7 separate regions of the Homo sapiens genome follow, and all the other regions are linked to region 5. The links come from fine-mapping of genetic effects on gene expression. A gene starts in region 5. Each other region holds a variant in brackets. All regions are shown on one strand. Distances are from middle to middle.

Region 1 (4,068 bases), 160 kb before region 5:
CCTGAGCTACACCACTCTTCCTGTGCAAAGATCCTAGTACAGGAAGGCCCTCCCTCCTTCATGCATGGGCAGAACTCCAGGTATTTGGGGCATCCACTCAACTGGTCCAGCCTCCTGAGCCACCCCACCTTTCCTGACTTAGAGTGTGTTACAGCAAGGCCTTCTCTGTTCCACATCCAAGCAGGTCTTTAGGCATCTGGAGCATCCACTGTCTTGGATTAGGAGTTCAGCTCACCCCACAACCCCAGGCAAGGAAGTTGGAGCCAAGGAGGTTTCCCAGCTGCATGCTTAGGCACACCTCTAAGCACTTGGTAGCTACCCACTGGATTCTCCCTTGGGACTGGTGCTTGTGCCTGCCAGCAGGCGACTTCTAGGTGGGCCATCTTGGTCTTGCCCATCATGGCCTCCACTGCCCACCAGAGCTGAGCAGGGAGCTCAGACCACTATGCATTCCATGAATTGGCCCATTATCTGAGGCAACAAAGAGCTTTTGCTAGTAAATAAGGATCAAGTAAGTACCCAGACATGTTAGCCGCAGCCAATTCTTACCTATAAGCACAATCTATGGGCTTGTAGGTTGAACTGCACAGCCCAATATAATACCTGCCAAAAAAATGTGCATAAGGCTATAGAAGCAAAACCAAAGAACCCTACCCAGCATTCTCTACCATCGTACTCCCTAGGAAGGGAAGGGATAGGAAAATGAACAAAAAAATAATAATATTATACAAAAAGAAAAAAATAAAAAATCCTACCAGCATGAAAACAATGACAAAAATTAAAACTAATAGCATCTCCAGATGAGAAGCAACCAGCTGAAGAATTCTGGCACCATGGAAAATCTGAAGGTAGTGTCATCATTAAAAGATTGCATTCTGTCTTCTGAAATTGAAAAACTCACTTAAGGAATTTCAAAATATAAGTGAAAACTATATTGAGAGACTAGACCAAGAAAAAGAAATAATTATTTCAGAACTTGAAGACTGATCTTTCTAACTAAATCAGTCAGACAAAATTTTTTTAAAAAAAATTTTAAAAAGTAAACAAAGTCTTCAAAAAATATGGGATTATTTAAAGCAACCAAACCTATGAATTATTGGCATTCCAGAAAGAAGGAGAAAAAGTAAACAACCTTGAAAACACTTGATCTTAGCCAAAAGGCCAAGAAGCGATACAACCTGGAAAACATATTTGAGGAAATAATTTATAAATATTTCCCTACTCTGCTAGAGAGGGAGGCATCCAGATACAAGAAATCCAGAGAACACCAGTAAGATACTATACAAAACAAACCCCACAAAGGTATATAGTCACCAGACTGTCAAAGGTCAATGCTAAAGAAAAAATCTTAAAGGCAGCTAGAGAAAAAGGTCAGATCACATACAAAGGTAACTCCGTCAGTCTAACGGTGGACTTTTCAGCAGAAACCTTACAAGCCAGGAGAGATTGAGGGCCTATTTTCAGTGTTCTTAAAGATGAGAAATTCTGACCAAGAATTTCATATCCTGCCAAACTACGCTTAATAAACAAAGGAGAAATAAAATCTTTTCCAGACAAGCAAGCACTAAGGGAATTTGCTATCACTAGATCAGTCTTACAAGAGATCCTTAAGAGAGCTCTAAACATGGAAATGACAGAATGATACTTGCTACCACAAACACACACTTAAG[T/C]ACAGAGCCCACAGACCCTGTAAAGCCCCCACACAATAGAAAGTAAAAAGCAACCAGCTAACAACTTCATAATAGGATCAAAACCTCACATATCAATATTAATCTTAAATGTAAATAGTCTAAATTCCTCAGTTAAAAGGCAAAGAGTGGCAAGTTGAATAAGTAAACCAGACACATCTGTCTATTACCTTCAAGAGACCTATCTCACTTGTAATGACACCCATAGGCTCTAAGTAAAGGGTTGGAGAAAGATTTATCATCCAAATGAAAAAAGAGCAGAGGTCACTACACTTACATCCGATAAAACAGACTTTAAACTAGCAACAAACAAGGGCAAAGGGGGGCATTACAAAATTATTAGGGATTCAACTCAACAAGAAGATGTAACTATCCTAAATCTATATGCACCCAAGATTGGAGCACACAGAATCATAAAACAAGTACTTCTAGACCTATGAAAAGACTTAAACAGCCACATAATAGTGAGGGACTTCAGCTTCCCACCAAAAACACTATTCAGACCATCAAGGCAGAAAACTAACAAAGAAATTCTAGACTAAAAGTTCAACACTTCACCAATTAGACCTAATAGTCATCTACAGAATACTCCATCTAGCAACCACAGAATATATATTCTTCTCATTTGCACACAGAAATTAATCCAAGACGGACCACATTCTTGATCATAAAGCAGTCTCAATAAATTTTCAAAAACTGAACTCATACTTTATCTCAGACCATAGTGGAATAAAAATATAAATCAATACCAAGAAGATCTCTCAAAACCACACAATTACATAGAAATTAAACAACTTGCTGTTCAATAACTTCTAGGTAAGCAATTAAAGTAATGGAGAAATCAATAAATTCTTTGAAATAAAATGAAAACAGAGACACAACATAACCAAATGTCTGGGATGCAACAAAAGTAGTGTTAAGAGGAAAGTTTACAGTACTAAACACCTACATCAAAAAGTTAGAAAGATCTCAAATTAATAATCTAACATCACATCTAGAGGAACTAGAAAAACAAGAACAAATTAACCCCAAACCTAACGGAAGAAAAGAAATAACTAAAATCAGAGAATAACTAATTGAAATTGAGACCCAATTGAGACCCTTTGAAATTGATACAAAGGATCAATGAAACCAAAAGTTGCTTATTTGAAAGGATACCCAAGATCAATAGACCACTAGCTAGATGAACAAAGAAAAATAGAGTGAGGATACAAACGAGCTCAATCACCAGCGACAATGATGACATTACAGCCAATCCCATAGAAATACAAAAGACCCTCAGAGACTATTCTGAATACCTTTATGCACAGAAACTAGAAAATCTAGAGGAAATGTATAAATGCCTTGAAACACACATTCTCCCAAGATTGAATCAGGAAAAAATTGAAATCCTGAACAGATCAATATCAAGTGCTGAAATCGAATCAGTAATGAAATAGCTACCAATGAAAAGAAGCCCTAGGCAAGATGAACTCACAGCCAAATTCTATCAGACATACAAAGAGGAGCTGCTACCAATTCTACTGAAACTATCCCATAAAATTGAGGGAGAGGGACTCTTCCCTAACTCATTCAATGAAGCCATCCTCACCCTGATCCCAATGTGTGTGAGGACACAACGAAAAAAGAAAACTATAGGCCAATATTCCTGATTAACACAGATATAAAAATCCTCAACAAAACACTAGCAACATGAATCCAGCATCACATTAAAAAATGTAATTCTCCATGATCAAGTGGGCTTCATTTTTGGTATACAAGTTGGTTCAACATGCGCAAATCAATAAATGTGATTCATCTTATAAACAGAATTAAAAATAAAAATAACATATGGTCATCTCAATAAATGCAGAAAAAGCTTTGATGAAATCCAACCTCACTTTATGATTAAAACCCTTAAGAAACAAGGCATTCGAGGAACATATCTCAAAATAATAAGAGCCATCTATGAAAACCCACAGCCAACATCATACTGAATAGGCAAAAGCTGGAAACATTCCCCTTGAGAACTGAAAGAGACAAAGATGCCCACTTTTACCACTCCTAGTCAAAATAGAACTAGAAGTGCTAGCCAGAGCAATCAGATAAGAGAAATAAATAAAAAGTATCCAAATAGGAGAAGTCAAACTCTCTCCCCACAGATAATATAATTCTATACCTAGAAAACCCTAAAGAATCCCCCAAAAGGCTCCTAGACCTGATAAACAACTTCAGTAAAATTTCAGGATACAAAATAAATGTACAAAAATCAGTACCATTTCTATACATCAAAAATATTCAAGCTGAGAGCCAAATCAGGAACATAATTTTAATTAAAATAATAGCACAAAAATATTTAGAAATGCATCCAACCATGGTGGTTAAAGATCTCTACAAGGAG
Region 2 (4,068 bases), 220 kb before region 5:
ATCAAAAATACAATCCCATTTACAATAGCCAAAAATAAAATAAAATACCTAGGAATACATTTAACCAATGGTGTAAAATAGAGAACTACAAGGAGAACTACCAAACACTGCTGAAAGAAATCATAGATGACACAATCAAATGAAAAAATGAAAAAATATTCCTTGCACATAGATTGGAAGAATCAATATTGTTTAAATGGCCATACTGCCCAAAGCAATATACAGATTCAACATTATGCCTATCAAACCACCAACACCATTTTTTGCAGAATTAGAAAAAACTAATCTAAAATTTATATAAAACCAAAAAAGAGCCCAAATAGCCAAAGCATCCTAAACAAAAAGAACAAAGTTGGCATCACATTACCCAACTTCAGACATCACATTACCTAATTTCAAACTATACTATAAGGCTACAGTAATCAAAACAGCATGGTACTGACATAAAAACAGACGTATAGACCCATGGAATAGAATAGAGAACTCAGAAATAAAGCTGCACTCCTACAACCAACTGACTTTCAACAAAGCCAACAATAATAAGCAATAAGGAAAGGACTCCCTGTTTAATAAATGGTGTTGTGGTAGCTGGCTATCCATATGCAAAAGAAAGAAACTAGACCTCCTACCTATCACCATATACAAAACTTAACTCGTGATGGATTGAATATTTAAATGTAAGACCTCAAACTATAAGAATACTAGAACACCACCTAGGAAATAACCTTCTAGACATTGGTCTTGGCAAAGAATTTAGAACTAAGTCCACAAAAGCAATTTTAACAACAACGACAAAAAAATTAAGCCAGGCACAGTGGCTCACACCTGTAATCCCAGCACTTTGGGAGGCCAAGATGGGTGGATTGCTTGAGTCTGGAAGTTTGAGACCAGCCTGGGCAACATAGTGAGACCCCCATCTCTACAAAAAGCATAGAAATTAGCCAGGCATCGTGGCACATAGTCCCAACTACTCAGAAGGCCAAGATGGAAGGATTACTGGAGCCTAGGAAGGTCTATGCTGCAGTGAGCCATGATCACGCCACTGTACTTCAGCCTGAGGGACAGAATGGGAACCTGTCTCAAAAAAAAAAATTGACAAGTGGGACCTAATTAAACTGAAGAGCTTCTGCACAGCAAGAGAAACTATCAACAGGTAAAGAGACAACTGACATAATGGGATAAAATATTAATAGCAAACTATGCACCCAACAAAGGTCTAATATCCAGAATCTATAAGGAACTTAACCAAACAAGTAAAAAACAATTCCATTAAAAGGTGGACAAGATACTTCAAAAAGAAGATATACAAGTGGCCAAGAAACAAACGAAAAAAATGCTTCACATCATGCATCATCAGAGAAATGCAAATCAAAACCACAAAGCAATACCATCTCACACCAGTGAGAGTGGTAATTATAAAAAAGTTAAAAAATAACAGATGTTGGTGAGTACACAGAGAAAAAGGAACTCTTTATGCTGTTGGTAGGAATGTAAATGAGTTCAGTCACTGTGGAAAGCAGTTTGGAGATTTCTCAAAGAAGCAAAAATAGAACTACTGCTCAACCTAGCAATCCCATTGCTTGGTATATATCCAAAGGAAAAGAAATTGTTCTACCAAAAAGACACCTGCACTTGTATGTTTATTGCACCAGGATTCACAATAGCAAAGATATGGAATCAAACTAGGTGCCCATCAACAGTGGAATGGATAAAGAAACTGTGGTACATATACACCAGGGAATACTATGCAGCCACAAAAAGAGAGAAATTATGTCCTTTGAAGCAACATGGATGTAGGTGGAGGCCATCATCCTAAGTTAATTGATGCAGAAATAGAAAGCCAAACACTGCATATTTTCCCGTATAAGTGGGAGCTAAACATTGGGTACATACAGACATAAACATGGGAACAATAGACACTAGGGACTATAAGATGGGAGTGAGGATGGGGACAAGGGTTGAAAATCAACCTATTGGGTACTCTGCTCACTATTTGGGTGACAGATTCTACCTCAATAGTTCTATCCCAAACCCTCAC[G/A]TCATGCAATATACTCTTGTAACAAGCCTGCACATGTGCCCTCTGAATCTAAAATAAAATTTGAAATTCAAAGAATAAGATAGAAAAATATCTAAACACTGTTTTCATTGTCTCGCATGTCATGCAGATCTTTGCCTAAAAAAGCTGGAAAGCCATCTCAACTTTCTTTGATTTGGCTAAGGAAGTGTTATTTGAAGGATTATTATGAAACAAGTATTGATACCTCATTTAAAAAGACTCTCTGTATACATACACATATGCCCATACATATGTATACATATGACAATGTAATCATGTTTTATGTTATTACAAAGGGTTAAAAACTCTTCTTTATCCTGTATACTTTAAAGTAATATATGTTTATGTTAGGTTATAAATAAAGATTTTGACATGTCAGAATCAAATTGGTAGGGGCAAAGTAGCCAATATCCAAAATGGCATACTGTACTTTAGGCTAATATATTTGCTTTTGTGGTTTGATAATTATGTACTATAAATTAGATAAAATGTGATAAATGAAAAAAGTAATATTGACTCATTAGAATTGTGCTTTGAGCATTTTAAATAGCAGTTGGTTATTTATTTGCTCACTTCACAACTTGATTTTGAAAATAGGAACTGTAATTATAAACAGATTTGTCTGATTATTTTGTGGAGAATAGACCAGAGTAGGGTAATAGCTGCAGATAAAAATGAGTTAGGAGGTAATGGTAGGTATCTAACTGAGAAATAACAGTTGTTTGAATGAAGCAATTTAGTGGAGATGGTGAGTGGTGATGCCCTTATTAGAGAAAGGAAGGTAGACACAAGAGCAGATTTGGTGGGGTATAAAGTCAAATAAATAAGTCCAGGGCAAGAAAGAGCAATCAGGGCTAGAGATGTAAATCTAGGACTTAACAGCACATTCATGGTATTTAAAACTATGGGATCAGATACAATTACCTAGAAAAGTCAGAGAAAATGCATCCTGGGGGCTCTCCAACACCCAGACTTTAAGTGTGAGCGACTGGCCAGAGAAGGAGAGATCAGAGAGTCAGGAGGAAACCCAGGAGAGTGTGGTATCTTGGAAGCAGAAGAGGAAAGTTTAAAAAAGTAGAGTGGCTGAGCATGCTAAATGCTGCTGAGAGAGAGTAAGGTGAGGAAAAGAATTCTGTAATGGAAGAGCAAGATACAAGTCTGTGGAAATGATAAAAAACTGTTTCATGAAGTAATGCAGATACAACTCCAGTTGGAGTGGGTTAATGAGAGAATAGGAGAAAAGTGGAGTCAATGCCTATAAACAATTCTTTTGAGTTTTAGCGTGATGAAAGGGTTAATTGATCATTTTTTTTAAATAAATTTCAGGCGGCTGTATTAAGGCATATTTACATGTAGGCAAGAGAGAGAGGGGATAATTGCAAGAGCAAAGTCTTTGAAGAGGCAATGCTGATAGAGGTACTATGAGCCTTGGAAAGGATGAGGTCAACCCTTCCCTGTAACAGAAGAGGAAGTGAAACGAGCCACTGGCTTTGGTGGGCCTCAGCTTCTTTGGAACACAAGGCTGTTGAAGAATGTGTCCTATGGGTTAACACCAATAACACTCCAGTTCTCCCAAGCTTACCCCCATTGTTAGCACAGTTAAGCTTTCTTTAATATCAGGCTCTTAAAAAGAAGTGTAAATGTGGAGTGAATGAACCAAAAAGAAAAGACAAAAATGCCATCATCCACCCAATTGAAATCCAAGGCCTGTTTATCCACTCACCCCTGAATACTGAGTGCACCCCAGATCTTAGGATCTGGGAGTGTTTCCCTCTGCTGAGATGCACTTTTAGTGGATGCAAAACCAACAGTTCCTCCTGGGCCATGACTCAGCAGAGTTATCCCAGTAATACCTTGTCTGGGAGAATGGAAATGGCATAGTACAATATCCTATATTGAACCTTTCCTCTTTCTTTTACTTCTGTCCATTCAAGCAGAAGCAGCACTCAGTGGTACTTCTCTCCTTGGGCTACTTTATATCAGAAGTGGAGTGTTTTTCCTCATTAGCTTAT
Region 3 (4,068 bases), 150 kb before region 5:
TCACATAAACCAAAAGAGATCTCTTCTCTGATGATCAAATTAATTCCACAGATAATCGAGCACATTACTACTATACATCAGGTATGAAAATAGTTTTAAAATTGTTCCCTAACCATTTTCATCTCTGACAATTTTCACATGCACCTTTCTCCCTGTAAGATAATATTATTTAGGTCACAACCTTCACACACGTGTTATCTTAATTGAATCCTTATAAAATCCAAAGAGGTAAATAATATTATTAGTTCACTGGAGTAACTATTAATATTATTATGAGTGGTGTGTCTCAGGACATTAGATATATTTAATTGTGTTTTGAGGATCCCATTTGTCCAAGTCAACCAAGTCACCAAATTTTGCTAGCCACGGTGACTAAATAGCTCTTTCCTAGCAAAAGAAAACATAAAATTCTCATTATTGAGTTACTGTCTAGGCCAGCACTGTCCAATAAAAATACAAAGCAAACCCTTGGATAGCATTTCTGAAACTGCTCTCGGCCAGAGGAGTGCCTACTACCCTAAAGAGTGAGTCCAAGGCCAGGCAGCATTCACAATAAGCTGACTAAAAAGCCCTTGGGCCTTAGGGGGAACATTGGTAGTAATCTGCCAGTACTCCTCATGGCCTGGAGTGGTGGTGGGTATGGGATAAGACTCCTCTGCCTTTGGAAAGGGGAGGGAAAAATGGAAAGTACAATAGAACATCAGATGGCCTTTTAAGGTTTTTGACTCTAGTTCCTGGCTCCCAAACAACACCTATGGACCCTCCTGGGTCCTGGAGAAAATCACAATCCTGCAGGGAAGGACGCAGGCCTGGCTGACTTTGCCACCTGCTGACTGTAGAGCCCTATGGCACTGAGCAAACATAGGCCATAGCCAGGGAGTAGTTAAGCAGGCCTTGGGCAAGACCCAGTGCTGTGCTGGCTTCAGGTCTGACCCAGGACATTCCTAGCGGTAGTAGCCAAAGGGTGCTTATGTCACTCCACCCCCATCTCCAGTTGACTCAGAACAAAGATATAAACTCTGTTTGTTTGGGAGAAAGTAAGGGAAGAGAACAAGAGTCTGCCTGGTAATCCAAAGAATTCTCCCAGTGCTTGTCCAAGAACATCAAGGTGGCACCTCTACACGTCTGCAAGAACCACAGTGTTACTGGACTTTGGGTACCCCCTAAAACAAATACAGCTTAGATCACAACACTTACGTCTTTTAGAATACCTGGAAAGCCCTCCCAAGAAAGACTGGTACAAGAAAGCCCACACTGAGAAGACTAGAATAAATACTTAACTCTTCAATGCCCAGACACAGATGAACATCTGCAAGAATGAAGACAATCCATGAAAACACAACATCACCAAATGAACTAAATAACGCATCAGGGACCAGTCCTGGAGAAACAGATATGCGACCTTTCAGACAAAGAATTCAAAAGCTGTTTTGAGGAAATGCAATGAAATTCAAGATAACGCAGAGAAGGAATTCAAAATGCTATCAGAAAAAATTTAACAAAGAGATTGAAATAATTAAAAAGAATCAAGCAGAAATTCTGGAGCTGAAAAGTGCAATTGACATACTGAAGGATGCATCACAGTCTTTTAATAACAGAAATGATCAAGCAGAAGAATGAATTAGTGAGCTTGAAGACAGGCTATTTGAAAATACATAGAAGAGACAAAAGAAAACAGAATTTTTTTAAAAAAATGAAGCACACCTGCGATATCTAGAAAATAGCTTCAAGAGGGCAAATCTAATAGTTATTGGCTTTAAAGAGAAGGTAGAGAAAGGAATAGGAGTAGAAAGTTTATTCAAAGGGAAAATGACAGAGAACTTCCCAAACCTGGAGAAAGATATCAATATTCAAGGACAAGAAGGTTATAGAACATCAAGCAGATTTAACCCAAAGAAGTCTGTCTCAAGGCATTTAACAATCAAATTCCCAAAGATCAAGGATTAATAAAAAAAGATCCTGGCTGGGCACGGTGGCTCACGCCTGTAATCCCAGTACTTTGGAAGGCCGAGGCAGGCGGATCACAAGGTCAGGAGATCGAGACCATCTTGGCTAACACGGTGAAACCCCGTCTCTACTAAAAATACAAAAATTAGCTGGGCGCGGTGGCAGGCGCCTGTAGTCCCAGCTACTCGGGAGGCTGAGGCAGGAGAATGGCGTGAACCTGGGAGGCGGAGCTTGCAGTGAGCCGAGATTGTGCCACTGCACTCCAGCCTGGGCTAAAGAGCGGGACTCTGTCTCAAAAAAAAAAAAAAAAAAAAAAAGATCCTAAAAGCAACAACAGAAAAGAAACAAATAACGTACAATGGAGCTCCAATATGTC[G/A]GGCAGCAGATTTTTCAGTGGAAATCTTACAGGCCAGGAAAGAGTGCATGATATATTTAAAGCAATAAAGGAAAAAATTTTTACCCTAGAATAGTATATATCTGGTGAAAATATCCTTCAAACATAAAGGAGAAATAAAGACTTCCCCAGACAAACAAAAGCTGAGGGATTTCATCAATACTAGACTCATCCTGCAAGAAATGTTAAAGGGAGTACTTCACTTAGAAAGAAAGGAATGTTAATTAGTAATAAGAAATCATCTGAAGTTACAAAACTCACTGGTAATAGTAAGTACACAGAAAAACACAGAATATTACAACACTGTAACTGTGGTGTGTAAACTACTGTTATCCTAAGTAGAAAGCCTAAACAATGAACCAAACAAAAACAATAACAACTTTTTGAGACATAGCACAATAAGATATAAATAGAAACAAGAGGCCGGGCGCAGTGGCTCATGCCTGTAATCCCAGCACTTTGAGAGGCCAAGGCAGGAGGTTTATGAGGTCAGGAAATCAAGATCATCCTGGCTAACATGGTGAAATCCCATCTCTACTAAAAGCACAAAAAATTAGCTGGGCATGGTGGCATGCACCTGTAGTCCTAGCTACTCGGGAGGCTGAGGCAGGAGAATCACTTGAACCTGGAAGGTGGAGGTTGCAGTGAACCGAGATTGCACCACTGCACTCCAGCCTGGGCGACAGAGTGAGACTCTGTCTCAAAAAAAAAAAAAAAAAAAAAAGCAAGAAAGAAGAAAAAGGTAAAAAGCAGGAGGACAAAGCTAAGGCATAGAGTCTTTATTTGTTTTCTTTTTGCTTGTTTGTTTATGAAACAGTGTTGGTATCAGCTTAAAATATGAGTTATAAGATAGTATTTGCAAGCCTCATGGTAACCTCAAACCAGAAAACATACAATGGATACACAAAAAATAAGCAAGAAATTAAATCACATCACCAGAGAAAATCGCCTTCATTAAAAGGAAGGAAAGGGAAGAAAAGACCACAAAACAAGCAGAAAACATAGAACAAAATGACAGAAGTCCTTATTTATTAATAATAACGTTGAATGTAAATGGACTAAACTCTTCAGTCAAAATATACTGACTGAATGGATGGGAAAAAAAAGAAGTAATAACCTGTTGCCTACAAAAAATACACACATAAACTGAAAATAAAGGGATGGGAAAAGATATCCCATGCTATTGGAAACCAAAAGACAGCAGGAGTCACTATGCTTGTATCAGACAAAATAGATTTCAAGACAAAAACTATATGAAGAGACAAAGGTCTCTGTATAATGATAAAGGAGTCAATTCAGCTAGAGAATATAACAATTTTAAATATATATGCACCCAACACTGGAGCACCCAGATACATAAAGCAAATATTATTACAGCTAAAGAAAGAGAGAGGCCCCAGTACAATATACAATAATAGCTGGAAACTTTAACACCTCACTTTCAGCCTTGGACAGATATTCTAGACAGAAAATCAACAAAGAAACATCATACTTCATCTGCACTATAGACCAAATGGATCTAATAGATATTTACAGAACATTTTATCCAAGAGCTACAGAATACACATTTTTTGTTCATCAGCACATGGATCATTCTCAATGACAGACCTTATGTTAGGTCACAAAACTAGTCTTAAAATATTTTTAAATGAAATAATATCAGTCATCTTCTCTGTACACAATGGAATAAAACTAGAAATCAACAACAAGAAGAATCTTGGAAACTA
Region 4 (4,068 bases), 210 kb before region 5:
CTCTGAGGTTCTATACACATCTCTCCTTATCCTAAAAAATCTTAGTCTTTAGACTAACACACAAAATAACATAAGGCAGTTGGACTGGTTGAAGTAATTCTTTATACACAAAGCTGCCAATAATGAGCATTTATTCTTAAGAAGTTACCAAAAAAATAATTCATGAAGGTGCTGGAGGTAAGAGGTTTGGGGATGATGAAATAAAGCTGTTAATTCTTCCATTTGCATCTATGACTTGTATAATGTAGGTGATATGTAGAGACTTGAAAAATTCATTACTAAGAAATGAGGCATTTTGTTTACTTTCATTTTCTGTTCCTGCTTTAAACTTCAGAAGACACATTAGTCATGAAAAACTTAATATGCATTAAATACCTTTTATTACATGCAGAATAGCCAGTGTAGCCTAGGGAAAAGAGATATATTTTGAATTCAGCAGTCCCACCTTAATCACACTACGTGTGGCCTTTAGCTTTAACAGAAACTCCCATGTGATAACTATGAATGACTCTATTCAATTTGGAAGGTACAAATTATGGTAATTTTGGGGAATGGGGAGGTGGCACGTGCCATAATGAACAATAACAGCATCCTAATGCTTCAAGTGTCACATATGTTAAACAAAAACACTAATGCTTTCTATGAACACCCCATTCTCTGGTGCTTTATCAGACTTGCCAACTCATTAATTAGAGCTATTGAAAAGAATTCCGTCTATAGACCTCATGGGCAGAGATTACAATGCTTGGTTTCCCCATTGATTTTTCATCAATCGGACTAACAGTAGCAAATCATTGAGAGTCAGAGTTGGGGTAAAGATTCCAGGGAAAGCGAACATTTGTAAATTGTGTTCCTTTGGGAAAAATAATAATAACGATAATTAAAATAGTAACCAACTTTTGAACACTTACTATGCACCAGGTGCCATGTTTCATTTATGTTATCTCATTTAATATTCACAACAAGCCTTGCAGTAGTTACAATAATCGGTTCACTTCTAAAAATGAGAATCCAAGGTTCCCAGAGGCAACGTGAACTTTTGGGTCTAATCTTTGTTTAAAGTCACACTGCTAGTAAGTGGGGAACCTGGAATTCAAACTTAGGTCTGTGTGCTCCAGAGTCCATTTGTAATCAATATAACTACTAGCCTCCAGTAATGTCAAATGTATGAGAAAAATAAAGATTACTCATAACATTTTCAGGATATTCCCCACCACCACACACACACCTTTAAAACTAGCAATGCTGACCCACATTCATTAGGATGGTAAGCATTATTAGGGACATACAGGTTTCACACTTACCATTTAAAAAGCTAAATGAAGTGCCCAAAATATAAAATGGCCATCCCTTGCTGATTTTCTTAAAATAGTATGTACGTGCAAGGATTGGCACCTGAGAGGTAGAATAAAATGAATAAAATGTCAAGATACAATACGGACTACCTTTTTCCTGTTCCTGGGCCCTAAATGACTGAGTTTGCCTTTAATGTTCCGAATACATTTTTAAAAAACAACAAAATTCGAGGTTCATGGTTATCTTAAAAGGTTACATGTCATAGCTTTTTGTATCATGCACTTCTAATCACATTTTAGCTTATATAATAACAGTGGTCAGCCTCTGCCTCCAGCCCTCTACTCCAATTTTCTCCAGCTCCCTCAGCTATATAAACTAGTAAATTTCACCTGCAGACCCAGTCCCATTTGGAATCAGTGCCGGGTATAGCAGGAAGCATGTCAGTAATCTCAGACCCTGCCAATGAGAGGAGAAGGGAACTGGTAGTTACTATAATGTAGGTGTTTCACAGATGAAGTTAAATCCTCTTAACAACCATACACTGTATCATATACCCCATTTTACACTTGAGAATACTGAAACTAGGCTGGTGAAAATATTTGACCAACGTTGTACCTTGTCATTGGTTAAGGAACAAACAAAGCAAACAAAGAAAGCAGGATCTAGGTGGTCTCCATCTCCCAGGCTAAATTCCATACAGTATAGTTTTGACTCCTCTTTCTCAATTTTGCATAATGAATCAAAAAAAGCAAAGTTCATATTTTGGCATGATCAGTTTACAAGATGGTTGAGCCTGCTTTCTGTAACAGCTTATGTCTTTTTCAAAACTTGTTTAGGAGAACATTCGTATCTTATGTAGGCTGCCTTCTGGTGTCTGC[G/C]TAAGATACCAAAGCCATACTATTTTGACCTTGACAACAACTGGGAAGACTGGAATCTAGTGTGAGAGAAGTTCTTGGACATTCACCCTGCCTGCTTATATCTAGTATAGTAAATTTAGAATGAAGTTTCAGACTAGGAGCCAAAAGAGTCATACTTTCCAGTTTTATTGCTGGGCCTTTTACCACACTTCATTCCCTTTTGTCTTTCTTGCTTGGAAGGTCTGTTCAGGGGGATGAGAACTGGTAGGAGATGGAGGTGGAGGAGGGGGTAGCAATGAGTGGAACGCATTGATGTGAGTCCTGCTCCTATTGTGTCATCCTGAGACCTTATTAAAAAGAAGCAAGACCCTAGACCCATAATCAAGCACAGCATCACTAATGATGGGTCAACCGGATGTTGTTTCTCCTGATGTAAGGCAATAGAGTTTATACGGCATACCTAGCTAGTATGTATTCTGGCTGAAAATACCCAACAGGAGCCACCACCAATGATTTATATTTAATCTAACCTACACATAAGAAATAAAGAAGATAAATAAACTAAATGAAATCACTGGAAAGGAACTAAACAAATCCAGAAAGTGAGATATTCTCGAGGGCAATAGGTCAGTGTCAGAGGAAAAGGGGAGTGTGCTAATCAGAAGAGACTTCAGGGACATAGCTACCAGATGCAAGGTCTGGCCCTGGATTAGACCCTGATTTGGACAGAATGTGGTAAATACAGTGTTGGGGGACAATTGGGGCAATCTGAATTAGAATGAATATTAGCTAAATTTAACATTTGTTGTAATGGAAAGATGGAAAATCTTAACAGAAAAAAAGCAGGTAGCAAAAAGCATGTAAAAGCAAAATCTCATTATTGTAAAAAAATTGTATATCTGGAAGGAAATATAAGAACGGTTTTATCAGTGGTGATTAAAATATGTTGCTTTATTTAGTTAAATTTTACTTTGATGTTTTCTTTGACTTTCTGTAATGCATGTAAAACTGCTTTTATAAGCAATCTACAGATCTTTTTACAAAAAAATACCTGCACTCATATGTTTATTGCAGAACTGTTCGAAATACCAAAGTTATTGAATCAACCTAAGTGTTCACCAACAGTAGGTTAGATAAAGAAAATGTGGTACATACACAACCATGGAATACTAAGCCGCTGTTAAAAAGAATGAAATCATGTCCATAGCAGCAACGTGGGTGAAGCTGGAGGCCATTATCCAAAGTGAATCAGCACAGAAACCGAAAATCAAGCACCACATTTTCTCACTTACAAGTGGGAGCTAAACCAAGGGAATATGTAGACATAAAGATGAAAACAATAGACATTCATGACTCTAAGAAAGGAGAGGAAAGGATGGGGATACAAGGGTTGACAAACAACATATTAGGTACTATGTTCACTATATTTGGGTGATGGGTTCCATAAAAGTCCAAACCCCAGCATTATGCAATATACTCACATAACAAACCTGCACATGTATCCCTGAATCTGTAATTGTATAAAACCTGCTCTTACAGTAATAAAAATTATTTTAATTAAAAATAGTTACTTTGAAATGGAAGTGCATGGGTCCTTCTCACAGAGCCTATTTTTTAGTACTCAGAATACATAACTAGTAGGTAGAATCTTCAGGAATCAAACCCAAAGGTTACGCATTTTTAAGTACGACCTTTACTTCTATTCACTCTTTGGGCTTCAGGTGCCAGGGATGAGTCCCTGCACTCATTTAACATTTGAGTTGCTCTAGCATTCTTGTCACTGTCAGCAGCTTTCCCTCACCCCCTGTGTTGGGCTCATCAATGTGAAAGTCTGGGCTTCTGCCTTAGTTGCTTTGCCCAGGGCTCCATTCCCCTTTCCTGAGCCCACCTGCTTGGCTTTGGCCTGAGGTCCTAC
Region 5 (4,068 bases):
GTTAGTCAAACATACCAGGTATATTTTCACTGTAGGGTCTTTGCTCTGGCTTTTCCTTCCTTCTGGAAGTCTCCTCCCCTTCCACTGCTTCATGTCCTTCAATATTACCTCGTCAATTGGTCCTACCCTAACCACCCTATTAATACTTGCAGCTGGCCCACCATCATCCCATGATTAGCAATCCAAATCCCCCTTACTATGCTCATTTTTTTTTCTTTCTGTCATGGCACTTTTCAATTTTTAATATCAACAATGTATTCATGCTTATTATTCATTGTTTGTCTTCCCTATGTATAGTGTAAACCTCATGAAGAATTCATTTTGTTCCCTGATTTATCCCAAGCATGCTTAGAATAGTGCCCAGTACATAGTAAGCGATTGATTAACACTTATTGAATGAATAGAGAACTACATGAACGAATAAAATAGATTAATATCCTACTCTCAAGTAGAAGAGACGGCAACCTTCCTTTCTTAAATCCTCTTTCTCAGTCTCCTATTTATACCTCAAAGGACTAACTGGGCTGGGAGGAGGAAGGGATTCTTTGGTAAGGAGGAATAGATAAATACAGCTGGAAAGGTTTTTATTTGAATATTTTAGGGTTTCATTTCTTTGGGTTTTTTCTTTTTTAATTGGCAAGTAAAAATTTATATATTTATGGTGTGAAACCTGATGTTTTGATATATATACACATTGTGGAATGGCTAAATCAAGCTATTTAACATATTCATTACCTTACATTCTTATTTTTGATGGTGAGAATAAAAGATTGTAGATTTTAAGAAACTTTCTATCTTCTTAGTTTGGAGGACTGTGAAATCTTGTGCTGTTGGGAGATTTTAGGGCTTTTGTATTCTCTTTATCACTCTGATTTTTGGTTCGGTAGTGCTTCAATTTGGAAAGTATCTTCTAAACTAAATGAACTAGAGGAGCCAGGAATCAGTACTCAAAAAAGCAGAGGAGAAAGCAAGCTGCTACAAGAAACTCAAGGGAAACAAGAAAAGAGAACTTCAGGGTTTCAGCCCAATTCACTAAATAGGAAAGAGGGCTAAGATTCAAGATCAGTGTTGGAACTAGTAACAAATATTACATTTCATGATAGAGGTGCAAAAATAATGAACCACAGGTATATTCATGATCTAATGTTATGTAACCTATTACCCCCAAATTTTAGTGGTTTAAGACAAGAGTAAGCATTTATTATATCTTATGGTTTCTGTGATTCAGGAATCCAGAAGCAGCTTGATTGGATAGCTCTGGGTCGGGGCTATCATGAAATTCAGTCAGATGTTGGCTGAAGCTACAGTCATCTGAAGGCTTGACTTGGTTGCAGGGTCTGTTCCCAAGATAGATCACTCACATAACTAGCAAGTTGTTGCTATTAGCAGGAGGCCTCAGTTCTTCCCACACAGAGCTAAGATTCAAGACTTCTATGCAAGTCAAGAAATACACACACACACACACACACACACACACACACACACACATAGTGAAGTCTGAATATAAATTAGGAACTGAGCTCTTCTTCTCTCTCCATAGGTATATACATATACATACATATACCTATATACACATAGATATCCTGGAGAATTATTTAGAGAGAGCAATATTTCTACATCAGCTCCCTAGGCCAAGTAAGGTGACCCAATGGACTTCACTTTTCTAAAAAGTGCAGTTATACTTATGTATCTTCTCTTACTATTCATCAAAATACCGACAATATTTTGGGCTGAAATGTTAATAATATCTGTATGAACCTCTGCTTCAAAAAATAATCCAAGGGATCCTTGAGTATTTTTAAAACATGGCATCTGGTTTCCCCAAAATGAGCAACATAAGAAAGCAAAGAATACAAAAGAACAAGGCAGAAGCCATAGTGTATGTCTTTATGATGTAGTTTTCTGCTGTACAGTACTGATCACATGGTCAGCTGTGATTCATTTTGGAAGGGGAGTATGAACAGGTGTGAATACCAGTAGGTAAGGATTCCTAGAGATGTTATCAACATCTCAGCCCGAAATATTGTCGATATTTTGGTGAATATTAAGAGAAGATACATAAGTGTAACTGGACTTTTTAGAAAAGTGAAGTCCATTGGGTCACCTTACTTGGCCTAGGGAGCTGATGTAAAAATACTACTCTCTTTAAATAATCCCCCAGGATATCTATATATATACACACACACACACGGAGAGGAAGTGCTCAGTTCCTAATTTATATTCAGACTTCACTATATATATGTGTGTGTGTGTGTGTATTTCTTGAGTTGTATAGAATACGTACTTATGAATAACAAACTTGACCAATTTTCCTACAGACATAGACTTCTTGCATTTAGCAGTATCACTCACCTCTTACTCCATCATTTCTTCAATAACTCCATCAACACTGAACCTTCTAACTCTAACATGCTACGATTCACTACTGTGAAAAAAAAGCTGATGTCATAAACACATTGTGTTCCAGTATCACTAAGGGCCATACCCCATTCTTAGGTAATCCCTGAGGTCCTACTAGCCTTGCTAGCCTCAAAGGAGTCACTTGGAGTATAAAGAGGGGGAGGAGACTGAACAAAGTCCTGGAGCTATAGTATATTTTTTCATTGTTAATCCTTGGCAAAGAAGTAGGTAGTTTGGAGGTGGAAGTAGGCCATGATTACCTTTAAAATAATCTACTATTATTTGTGTCTTTCCTGAATATCATAGCACCTTCTTGTCACAAATGCTTAGGGGAAAGAAAATCATCCAATATACCCCATATCCCACTTACCAACATCTCTACAGTAAAATGAGACCCAAGAGCATGATTTCCTTAACTAGCTATCAAGCAACTACCTCCAACAAACAGCAGTTATCATTAATATGTTCATGCTATTTTCATTTGTGAGGTCTGTAATCCATCAGAACAACCTGACAGTGATTAAGTAAAATCAAAGAGACTTTGTAAACATCTGTGTGCTTTTATTGTTACAAATGCTTCATTATAAAAAGATCAGTCAAAAGCATAAAAGTACCCTGGTTTAAACTTTTTCTGTGTTTGAATGAGAATGTTTCTCTTGGAACATGCTCATATCAGGCTTCCACTTGGCAAAATCACGAATTGGCTGATGTTGTTTTAGAGGCTTTCTCATGTCCCCTTCCAAACATCACTCTTCTCCTTCTGTGGACCCCTTTCTGTTATCTAGGAGCCCCTCATGCTGCCTTCCACATTCTGCCTACTGCACAGTCATGTTCTGGACCCCTCAGAATCCCCCTCTACCATTACAATATGTTTTTCCTAAGACTTACTTGCATTGAAAGGCTTGCCAGGGAAGTGACTAATCTTATCATCTTGTACTAAATGTTAAATTAATCCTCATTCTCTCTAGAATTGTTTTCTAAGCAGGGATTCCTAGAGATGCTATCAATATCTCAGCCTGAAATTGCATAGGTATTCTGGTGAATAGCAAGAGAAAATAACGTGAGTATAACTGGACCTTTTAGAAAAGTGAAGTCTATTAGGTCACCTTAGTTGGCCTAGGGAGTTGATGTAGGAATGCTCCTCTCCCTGAAATAATCTTCCAGGAGAGGAATGTATCCCCAAATAGCAAGTGAATATCCAATGGCTTCTCATTGCACTTAAACTCTATATTCCTTTTTATGACCAAAAAGGCCTGGCTTCTCCCTAACTGTCTCTTCCTTACACATTACACCTCTTCCTTTTGTATGTGAATGTGCCAAGCTACCACCTCATTTCTACCTTAAGGCCTGAAGTGTTATGTTCCAGTTCTTGGCATGCAAATTACTCTTCATCACTTGTTTCCCGACACAAATGCCACCTTTCCAGACAATCTAAAGTAACCTCAAAATCATTTGCTCGCACATCACTTTGTTTTATTTCTCCTGGTATTAATCACTATGTGAAATTTTCTGGTTCATATTATTTGTCACCTGCTTCTTCCAGGCCTCCTCTTACTTCATTGTCTATCATGTTCATTACCGTATCCCTAGTGTTTTGCACAGAATCTGGTACATATTCAGTGCTCAATAAATATGTGCTAAATGAATAAATGAATAAATTAACCTAAA
Region 6 (4,068 bases), 240 kb before region 5:
TTGTGGCTAAAGAGGGAGGAAACTGGGAAGCCTGCATGGAGTCACCGAGCACCAAGACCAGCTCCTGGCCCTCAACAGGTCCTAAGGAAGGGGTGAGTAAAGGAACTCCAAGGCACCACACCCCAAATACAACCCTCTGGGATCCTAGAGACAAGAGATCCCATTACCCCCACAGACATTTGAATTGGCAGGAGGAACTTCTTAGAGACCAGACAGAGGCAGAGATTGAACCTGCATAGAACCCTGAAGGTTTCAAGGTGGCACGTGGTGCAGCAGCAACTAAACGTGACTTCAGGCATTTATCCCAGAAGGCTCTCTATCTTGCTCTGAGTGACTGTAGCTCCTGCTGACTGTTCGGCCAGGAGAGAGCAAGGCTGCCTTTCCTGCAGGAGCAGGGCACATCTGATCCACACGCTGCCTTGTCCACCAGTCCCTCCTAAGACAACCTGCCTGGCTACTCCTGCAGGAGGTTGCCCACAGCACAGCCTCTACTGCCCCACCTGAGTGTTTTGCCAGCTGTCTGGGAGGAGTTAAACTCCCCCAGCACAGCTGGCACTCAACCCTGAGGGTTCAGAGGACAAAACTACTGGCCGAGTCCCTACCCCCCAGGATTCAAGCACACTACCCAGGGGCATCAAGCTGAGATCTGTGGCCTGAGCTCAGGTTGGGGAGGAGCCCCCACTCTCAGAACACTGAGGGAGTGTGGCCTGTGCTCATGTGGTGGCATGGGAGCTGGTCATCCCTCCCTCCACCAGACCAGTCCAGAAAGGGTGTAGCCTGTTAGCTGCAGCTTCTGCCCCAAGGAGCCCTGCAGCCTAGAACATTTTGGAACAGCAAGTGACCTGAATGCAGAAGGCTTGGGACAAGTCTAGCTGGTTGGGCCTGTTCTTACGCAGGCATCAGAGGGAGACCCAGTAGAAGGGGTGCAAGCTGAGCAGGTCCCACAATCATCCTCTGGGCTAAAATCCCTGGCCACAGTCAACACACAAGCTGAATACCTGTGGTACCACCACTCTCCCTCAGGATCCTCCACTCTTGACCCACTGAATCACCAGACTACCTGCAGACATACCTCACAACCTCCTTGGACTCTGCCAGGCTTAGAGGACCAGTAGGTCTCCAGGGAATTGTGGGTCTCCTGGTGACCTAACACTTGGCACAGACCACACCTAAGAAGGTGTGGAGAAGGTAGCCCACCAAAGCCCCACTTGATGCTAAGGAAATGCAGGCGTGATGCCAGTAACTGCAGGGTACTCCACTAAGGCCTGTAGACAAACTTGGTGAGGAAGTCATCTTTTGCCCCCCATTCCCCTCCCCAGGGCACCGCTGCACATGCACTGAAACACACAAGAGGCATGTGGCTAAGAGCCTATCTGCCAGCCCTGACTCTTAAGCACTATCTACTGGATTGCAACCTGAATCACACCGGGAAGCAAAAATACATCCCTTCAGCGCTCAATGCCTGGAGACCCATGCAGGAAAGGATCCACAACTGAGGAACTCTACACAGCCTTGGCCCTCTAAAAGCACATAGAAATGAAGCCAGTACTATACACAACATACACCACAGTCAAACACAAAAATTATTATAAAAACAAAAAGTCCCATCCAAATGACGGCAATTTCAAAAAGAAATACTGGCCCCCTCATATGAGAAGCAATCAGTGCAAGAACTCTAGCAATTTAAAAAGTCAGAGTGTTTCCTTACCTCTAAAGGATTGCACTATCTCTCCAGCAATGGATCCTAACCAGATTGAAATGTCTGAAACAACTGACATAGAATTCAGAATATGGATGGCCAAGAAAGCTCAACGAGATTCAAGAGAAAATTAAAACCCAATCCAAGAAAACTCAAAAAATGATCCAAGTATCGAAAGACAACAGAGCCATTTTAAGTAAGAACCAAACTCAACTTCTGGAATTGAAAATTTCACTATAGAAATTTCAAAATACAGCTGAAAGTCTTAATAACAGATTAGACCAAGCTGAGGAAAGAATTTCAGAGCTTGAAGATCAGTCTTCCAAATCAACTCAGTCAGACAAAAACAAATAAAAAAGAATAATTTAAAAATAGACAAACCCTCTAGAGACTATACGTGTGACTCACTGGCATGTCTGAGAGAGAAGAGAGAGTAAGCAACTTGGAAAACATATCTGAGGATACAATCCACAACAATTTCCCCAATTTTGCGAAAGAAGTTGAC[A/G]TGTAAGTTCAAGAAATTCAGAGAATCTTTGTGAGACATTATACAAGGTGACCTTCCTCAAGACACATAATCATCAGAATTTTCAAAGTCAACAAGAAAAGAAATCTTAAAGGCAACTGTAGAAAAGGGTCATATCACTTTTCTATCACTGTTCACAAAGGGAACCCCATCAGGTGAACAGTGGACTTCTCAGCAGAAACCTTACAAGCCAGAATAGACCTGGAGGCCTATTTTTAGCATTCTTGAAGTAAAGAAATACCAACCAAGTATTTTGTATCTCACCAAACTAATTTTCATAACAGAAGGAGAAAGACAATTTTTCCCGAACAAGCAATCACTAAGAAAATTCATTACCACTGAATCGTGGAGGAGCCAAGATGGCCGAATAGGAACAGCTCCTGTCTACAGCTCCCAGCGTGAGTGACACAGAAGATGGGTGATTTCTGCATTTCCATCTGAGGTACCGGGTTCATCTCACTTGGGAGTGCCAGGCAGTGGGCGCAGGTCAGTGGGTGTGTGCACCGTGTGCGAGCCGAAGCAGGGCGAGGCATTGCCTCACTTGGGAAGTGCAAGGGGTCAGGGAGTTCCCTTTCCAAGTCAAAGAAAGGGGTGACGGACGCACCTGGAAAATTGGGTCACTCCCACCCAAATACTGCGCTTTTCCGACCGGCTTAAAAAACGGCGCACGACGAGATTATATCCCACACCTGGCTCAGAGGGTCCTACGCCCATGGAGTCTCGCTGATTGCTAGCACAGCAGTCTGAGATCAAACTGCAAGGCGGCAGCGAGGCTGGGGGAGGGGCGCCCGCCATTGCCCAGGCTTGCCTAGGTAAACAAAGCAGCCAGGAAGCTCCAACTGGGTGGAGCCCACCACAGCTCAAGGAGGCCTGCCTGCCTCTGTAGGCTCCACCCCTGGGGGCAGGGCACAGACAAACAAAAAGACAGCAGTAACCTCTGCAGACTTAAATGTCCCTGTCTGACAGCTTTGAAGAGAGCAGTGGTTCTCCCAGCACGCAGCTGGAGATCTGAGAACGGGCAGACTGCCTCCTCAAGAGGGTCCCTAAACCCCGAGCAGCCTAACTGGGAGGCACCCCCCAGCAGGGGCACACTGACACCTCACACGGCAGGGTACTCCAACAGACCTGCAGCTGAGGGTCCTGTCTGTTAGAAGGAAAACTAACAAACAGAAAGGACATCCACACCAAAAACCCATCTGTACATCACCATCATCAAAGACCAAAAGTAGATAAAACCACAAAGATGGGGAAAAAACAGAGCAGAAAAACTGGAAACTCTAAAAAGCAGAGCGCCTCTCCTCCAAAGGAACGCAGTTCCTCACCAGCAATGGAACAAAGCTGGATGGAGAATGACTTTGACAAGCTGAGAGCAGAAGGCTTCAGACGATCAAATTACTCTGAGCTACGGGAGGACATTCAAACCAAAGGCAAAGAAGTTGAAAACTTTGAAAAAAATTTAGAAGAATGTAAAACTAGAATAACCAATACAGAGAAGTGCTTAAAGGAGCTGATGGAGCTGAAAACCAAGGCTCGAGAACTACGTGAAGAATGAAGAAGCCTCAGGAGTCGATGCTATCAACTGGAAGAAAGGGTATCAGCAATGGAATGTGGGGAAAAGCAAGAGAGATCAGATTGTTACTGTGTCTGTGTAGAAAGAAGTAGACATAGGAGACTCCATTTTGTTATGTACTAAGAAAAATTCTTCTGCCTTGAGATTCTGTTAATCTATAACCTTACCCCCAACCCCGTGCTCTCTGAAACGTGTGCTGTGTCAACTCAGAGTTAAATGGATTAAGGGCGGTGCAAGATGTGCTTTGTTAAACAGATGCTTGAAGGCAGCATGCTC
Region 7 (4,068 bases), 440 kb before region 5:
TTGCCACATCCCACCATGGTGACTGTGGGCAAGTTATTAAACTGCGCTGTGCCAGAGTTTTCTCATATGCAAAATGGACTAATAATAGCACTTTTCCCAAATGGTTATTGTGACCCTGTGATAAGATAGTACATATAAAGTACTTAGAAAAGTATCTGGTGCACAATAAACCCTGAAAGTTATCTGTATTTATTCCTTGGTAAACTAACTCCTAACACCAGAGGAAAAAAAATGCCACCATCTTTCACTAGCTTTCCCTCTCCTTTCTCCATTTCTCTTTTCCTGACTAACAATTCCTCATCATCCAGGACCAAGCTCAAATATCATCCCCTCCAGGAAGCCTGCCCTGATTGTTCCCCACACCCCACCCCAATGTGGGTGAGTTCTTTGTGTTCCCATCATTTCCTCAAAGGATATCTCTACACTTTAATAAGTTTTATTATAATTTTCCTTCCTCAGTTTTGTCTCAAGATTAGACTAGAGACCCTAGACTATTCATGTTAGGGTTTCTAGGAGCTAGCACAGGGCATTGACAGAGCAGTCTCTTGCCATGGTTAATTTACTCCATGCCAGGATCCCAGGGACAGCCTTTCCCCAGCAACTCCTCAGCCTGGGCTACACGATGGCCCATGGAAGTTCTCTGCCTCAGATGGAACTGTTTCTTGTTCTCTTCGACTAAGCAAAACAGACAGGTTGGGTCATTATCGAGTAATTCAGGCAAGAGAAGCAGCCAAACACATGTTTTTATCTGAGTTACCCAAATTGGCTGACTCCCCAGCCTGCAGTTACTGGGTAATTGCTCAATCTTCCATTTGGCTTTTACTGTGTAAATGTGGCTGCAGAGTCTTTTTATTTCTCTCGAATGGCTCCTCCCATTTTCTGTCTAATATAGGTTAAAATGTAAAGTTTTCTTTTTCCTCTGCCCGCAGTAGCTGTCTAGGCCATCAGCACACCTTGCTTCATTAGCCTTCAAAGTGGGCCAGAATGGTCGGATAGGTATCTAGTCATAGTTTTCTGTTTGTTTGTTTGTTTTAGACAGAGTTTCACTCTTGTTGCCCAGGCTGGAGTGCAATGGTGTGGTCTCGGCTCACTGCAACCTCTGCCTCCTGGGTTCAAACTACTCTCCTGCCTCAGCCTCCCAAGTAGCTGGAATTACAGGCACCCACCTCCACACTTGGCTAATTTTTACATTGTTTTTTAGTAGAGATGGGGTTTCACCATGTTTGCCAGGCTGGTCTTGAGCTCCTGATCGTAGATGATCCACCTGCCTCAGCCTCCCAAAGTGCTGGGATTACAGGCGTGAGCCACTGCACCTGGCCTGGTCATTGTTTTCAATTTGTCCTGGATAATCTGCTGTCAACCCCTCTTTTTTTTTAAAGAGAGAGGACGCACAGGAAACACATAACTCAGTCATATGTTTCACACACTGGGAGCTTTTCCTGTTCTGGCCTCAGGTGCAGGAATTCTGAAATCCCTTTCTCAGAAGCTATGACCACAGCTCACTGTAGTTTGTGGAAAGCTCACAGGGTCTGCTTTCAAGTAGTTAGAGCCTGGTTCCAATTCCAGTCCAGCCTCTTACTACCTATGTAACCGTGGGCATATCACTTACCAATTCATCATATGCTGCTTGTTTTACCCTTGAAATGTCTCTAGAATTTACCTGCTTCCCCACATCTTTGCCATTCCTACCTACTGCAAAACATCATCTCCCACCTGGACTATTAAAATACCTACACAACTTGTTCCGGGCTTCCACCCCTTTCCCCCTAAAATATGTTCAAAAAGATGTGTTTAAAACCTAAATTAGAACTTTTCTGTTGAAACCCCCCCTGTGGCTTTCCTTCATATTAAGAAGAAAATGTAACATCCTTTGTGGCCTTGAAGGGCACTTTTCATGGGGTGGCCACTTCACACCCATGCACCCCATTACTTTCTGCCTTCATCTCCTACCCTCTCCCCTACTCCCCTACTCATTCACTTGCTCTCTTGCTTCCAGTCACACTGGCCTCCCAAGCTATACGCAAGTGGGCAGGATAAAGTAGTGTTTATGAGATTTGGAATGAGACAGCTTGACTCTGCCATTTTTCTGGCTGCATGGCCTTGTTGCTTAATCTCACGGAGCCTGTTTCTCTTCTGTAAATGAGCACACCACTACCCACTTTGCAGGGTTACCCTGAGGATTAAATGAGATATTAAATATAATGCAGTTGAGCACAGTATTTGGCATATTGTCAACCCTACGTCAAGAAGTGGTGGCTACTGAAGTGAGGTGTGAATGAGGAGAGTGGGC[G/A]GTGGAGGTGGGTGGGTGCTCTGAAGTGGAAAAGGGGCTCTAGAGCTTTCCCTAGAACAGGATAACCCTTTCCCTCACAAACCGTACTCCAATTTCAAGCCCAATTTCTGCTGAAGTTCAGCTCAAGCCCTTTCTTTTGATGTTCTTAGTAGAAATATTTAAACTATCACTGAGCCATCCCAATGAACTGTTGATTTCCCCTGCATACTCACTCTGCCAGCCCACAGCTCCATTGCTCTGGTCTGGAGAAGGCCAAGCCCTTGAAAAATTTATTCCCCAGAAGCCTGATTGATCTTGATTGCCTTTCGTGGCCCTACTCCAAGTTCTCCATATCACTACTCAGCTGTGGGTCCCATTTAATAAAGGCACCACAAATGTGGAGGGGGAACTCCTGGTCTTTGCCAGTGAAACTGGCTCACTTTTCAGGCTTCATGGTGCTACCCTGGTTCCACTGTTGGATGAACACTCTAGGAGCCTGCCAGCTATGCCAGCTCTGCCAGCTCCATTTTTTCCTTTTCAGCAGATACCCCAGGTCTATGTTGCCAGAGAAATGGCCACTATGTGCTGTTTGGATTCTTACCTCTATGCTAACATGAATCCACACTGTCATGCCTGCTGAATCATTTTTCTCTGCTCAGCTGAAAACTCAAGACTTCAGTGCTTCTGGGCTACGATTTCTTTTGGACTATCGAGTACAAGAACCTGTGGATTTTAGACCAGTCACCTTGTATGGTAATTGAAATTTTAACAAGCTAAATGAGTAAGTGATATAAAATTCTGTTTAATATTAACTCTTTAACCCAGGGAGTTAGGTAAGTGCCACCCACTGGGCCTAAATCATAGCACAAAATCACTCAGTTGCTCAGTTGGCCAGCAAGTCAAGCAAAAAAGACAAAAACAAAAGCAAAAACAAACACAAAGCCAGCTTCCCTATAAACTACTTTGATCAGCTTTTTAAGCTTTCCCAAACTGACCATATTATTTAATTGTTAAGAGAACCTGTGGACCTTGGGACACAGGAACTGCAGAGTGCTTAAAAATCACTGAAACACATGAGCTATCTATTTCTTTACAAACCAATGACTAAAAAGGATAATAAGTTTTAAATCAGGCTGTAATTCAGTGGCTCTCAAATTTTAAGATACTCAAGAGTCAACTGGAGACTGGGGAGGTATTAGAAATGGTCAGTCTCAGAGATTCTGATTTGTCACATCTGGGGTAAGGATCAGAAGTCTCTGTCTCTCCTAAGCTTCCTGGAAGAATTTTGCAGCAGATGGTCAGAGATCACACTTTGAGAAACCCTGAGACTGTAGGAGGGAGTTGCTAATTCACACCATATTTGCTCTCATTAATCTACTGTTTATTTTTCTAGTGTCTGCTGTGAGCTGGGGGCTTAAAGTACACTATATTTACTCTTTACAACATTGCCGCATGGTATATTATTATCATTCCCACTTTACAGATGATACAATTGAGGCTCAGCACGGCCAAATAACTCACCTGGTGGGCTGGGATTTGAACTCAGGTCTTTAATTTCTTTTTTCACCACATATGATACAGTGAAAGTTGAGAATGAGGGAGGCAGGTGGCCTGGGAACAAGCCAACTTAAGGCACGCTCAGAGCTTAACCAGCCCTGGCAGGTCAAAAAGTTAGAATAATTAGATCTATTTTGTTTACACCAAAATTCCTTTTGTTGATTTTTTTTTAATTCCATGAAATCTTTTACCAAAATGTTATTTGGCATTATGCAGTTGCCAAAATGTGAGTTAATCATTTG

What was found. PIP is the estimated chance that this variant, and not a neighbour inherited with it, causes the effect. A credible set is the group of variants that fine-mapping cannot tell apart.
Region 1: its variant is the best candidate, but not a certain one, in a credible set for the expression of SLC44A5 in esophagus mucosa (GTEx, PIP 0.65).
Region 2: its variant is the best candidate, but not a certain one, in a credible set for the expression of SLC44A5 in liver (GTEx, PIP 0.57).
Region 3: its variant is the best candidate, but not a certain one, in a credible set for the expression of SLC44A5 in whole blood (TOPMed, PIP 0.88).
Region 4: its variant is the best candidate, but not a certain one, in a credible set for the expression of SLC44A5 in activated CD8 T cells (Schmiedel 2018, PIP 0.60).
Region 6: its variant is the best candidate, but not a certain one, in a credible set for the expression of SLC44A5 in whole blood (INTERVAL, PIP 0.63).
Region 7: its variant is the best candidate, but not a certain one, in a credible set for the expression of SLC44A5 in whole blood (TOPMed, PIP 0.86).

Annotation. Positions count from the first base shown.
Region 1 is chr1:75,450,785-75,454,852 of GRCh38, forward strand. The region is part of intron 2 of SLC44A5 (solute carrier family 44 member 5); the gene reads right to left. Among named protein-coding and RNA genes, the nearest start is that of SLC44A5, 160 kb to the right of the region's middle. The variant T/C (reference allele first, on the strand shown) is at 1,671.
Region 2 is chr1:75,391,069-75,395,136 of GRCh38, forward strand. All of the region lies in intron 3 of SLC44A5 (solute carrier family 44 member 5), which reads right to left. Among named protein-coding and RNA genes, the nearest start is that of SLC44A5, 220 kb to the right of the region's middle. The variant G/A (reference allele first, on the strand shown) is at 2,039.
Region 3 is chr1:75,461,179-75,465,246 of GRCh38, forward strand. All of the region lies in intron 2 of SLC44A5 (solute carrier family 44 member 5), which reads right to left. Among named protein-coding and RNA genes, the nearest start is that of SLC44A5, 150 kb to the right of the region's middle. The variant G/A (reference allele first, on the strand shown) is at 2,324.
Region 4 is chr1:75,396,670-75,400,737 of GRCh38, forward strand. All of the region lies in intron 2 of SLC44A5 (solute carrier family 44 member 5), which reads right to left. Among named protein-coding and RNA genes, the nearest start is that of SLC44A5, 210 kb to the right of the region's middle. The variant G/C (reference allele first, on the strand shown) is at 2,175.
Region 5 is chr1:75,608,688-75,612,755 of GRCh38, forward strand. SLC44A5 (solute carrier family 44 member 5) reads right to left here and starts at 2,427. Exons shown (of 24, transcript NM_001130058.2): 1 at 2,353-2,427.
Region 6 is chr1:75,373,258-75,377,325 of GRCh38, forward strand. The region is part of intron 3 of SLC44A5 (solute carrier family 44 member 5); the gene reads right to left. Among named protein-coding and RNA genes, the nearest start is that of SLC44A5, 240 kb to the right of the region's middle. RefSeq lists enhancers at 2,207-3,406, 2,251-3,034, 3,035-3,816, 3,817-4,068. The variant A/G (reference allele first, on the strand shown) is at 2,205.
Region 7 is chr1:75,167,208-75,171,275 of GRCh38, forward strand. It overlaps a transcript of LHX8 not described here. Among named protein-coding and RNA genes, the nearest start is that of LHX8, 35 kb to the left of the region's middle. The variant G/A (reference allele first, on the strand shown) is at 2,291.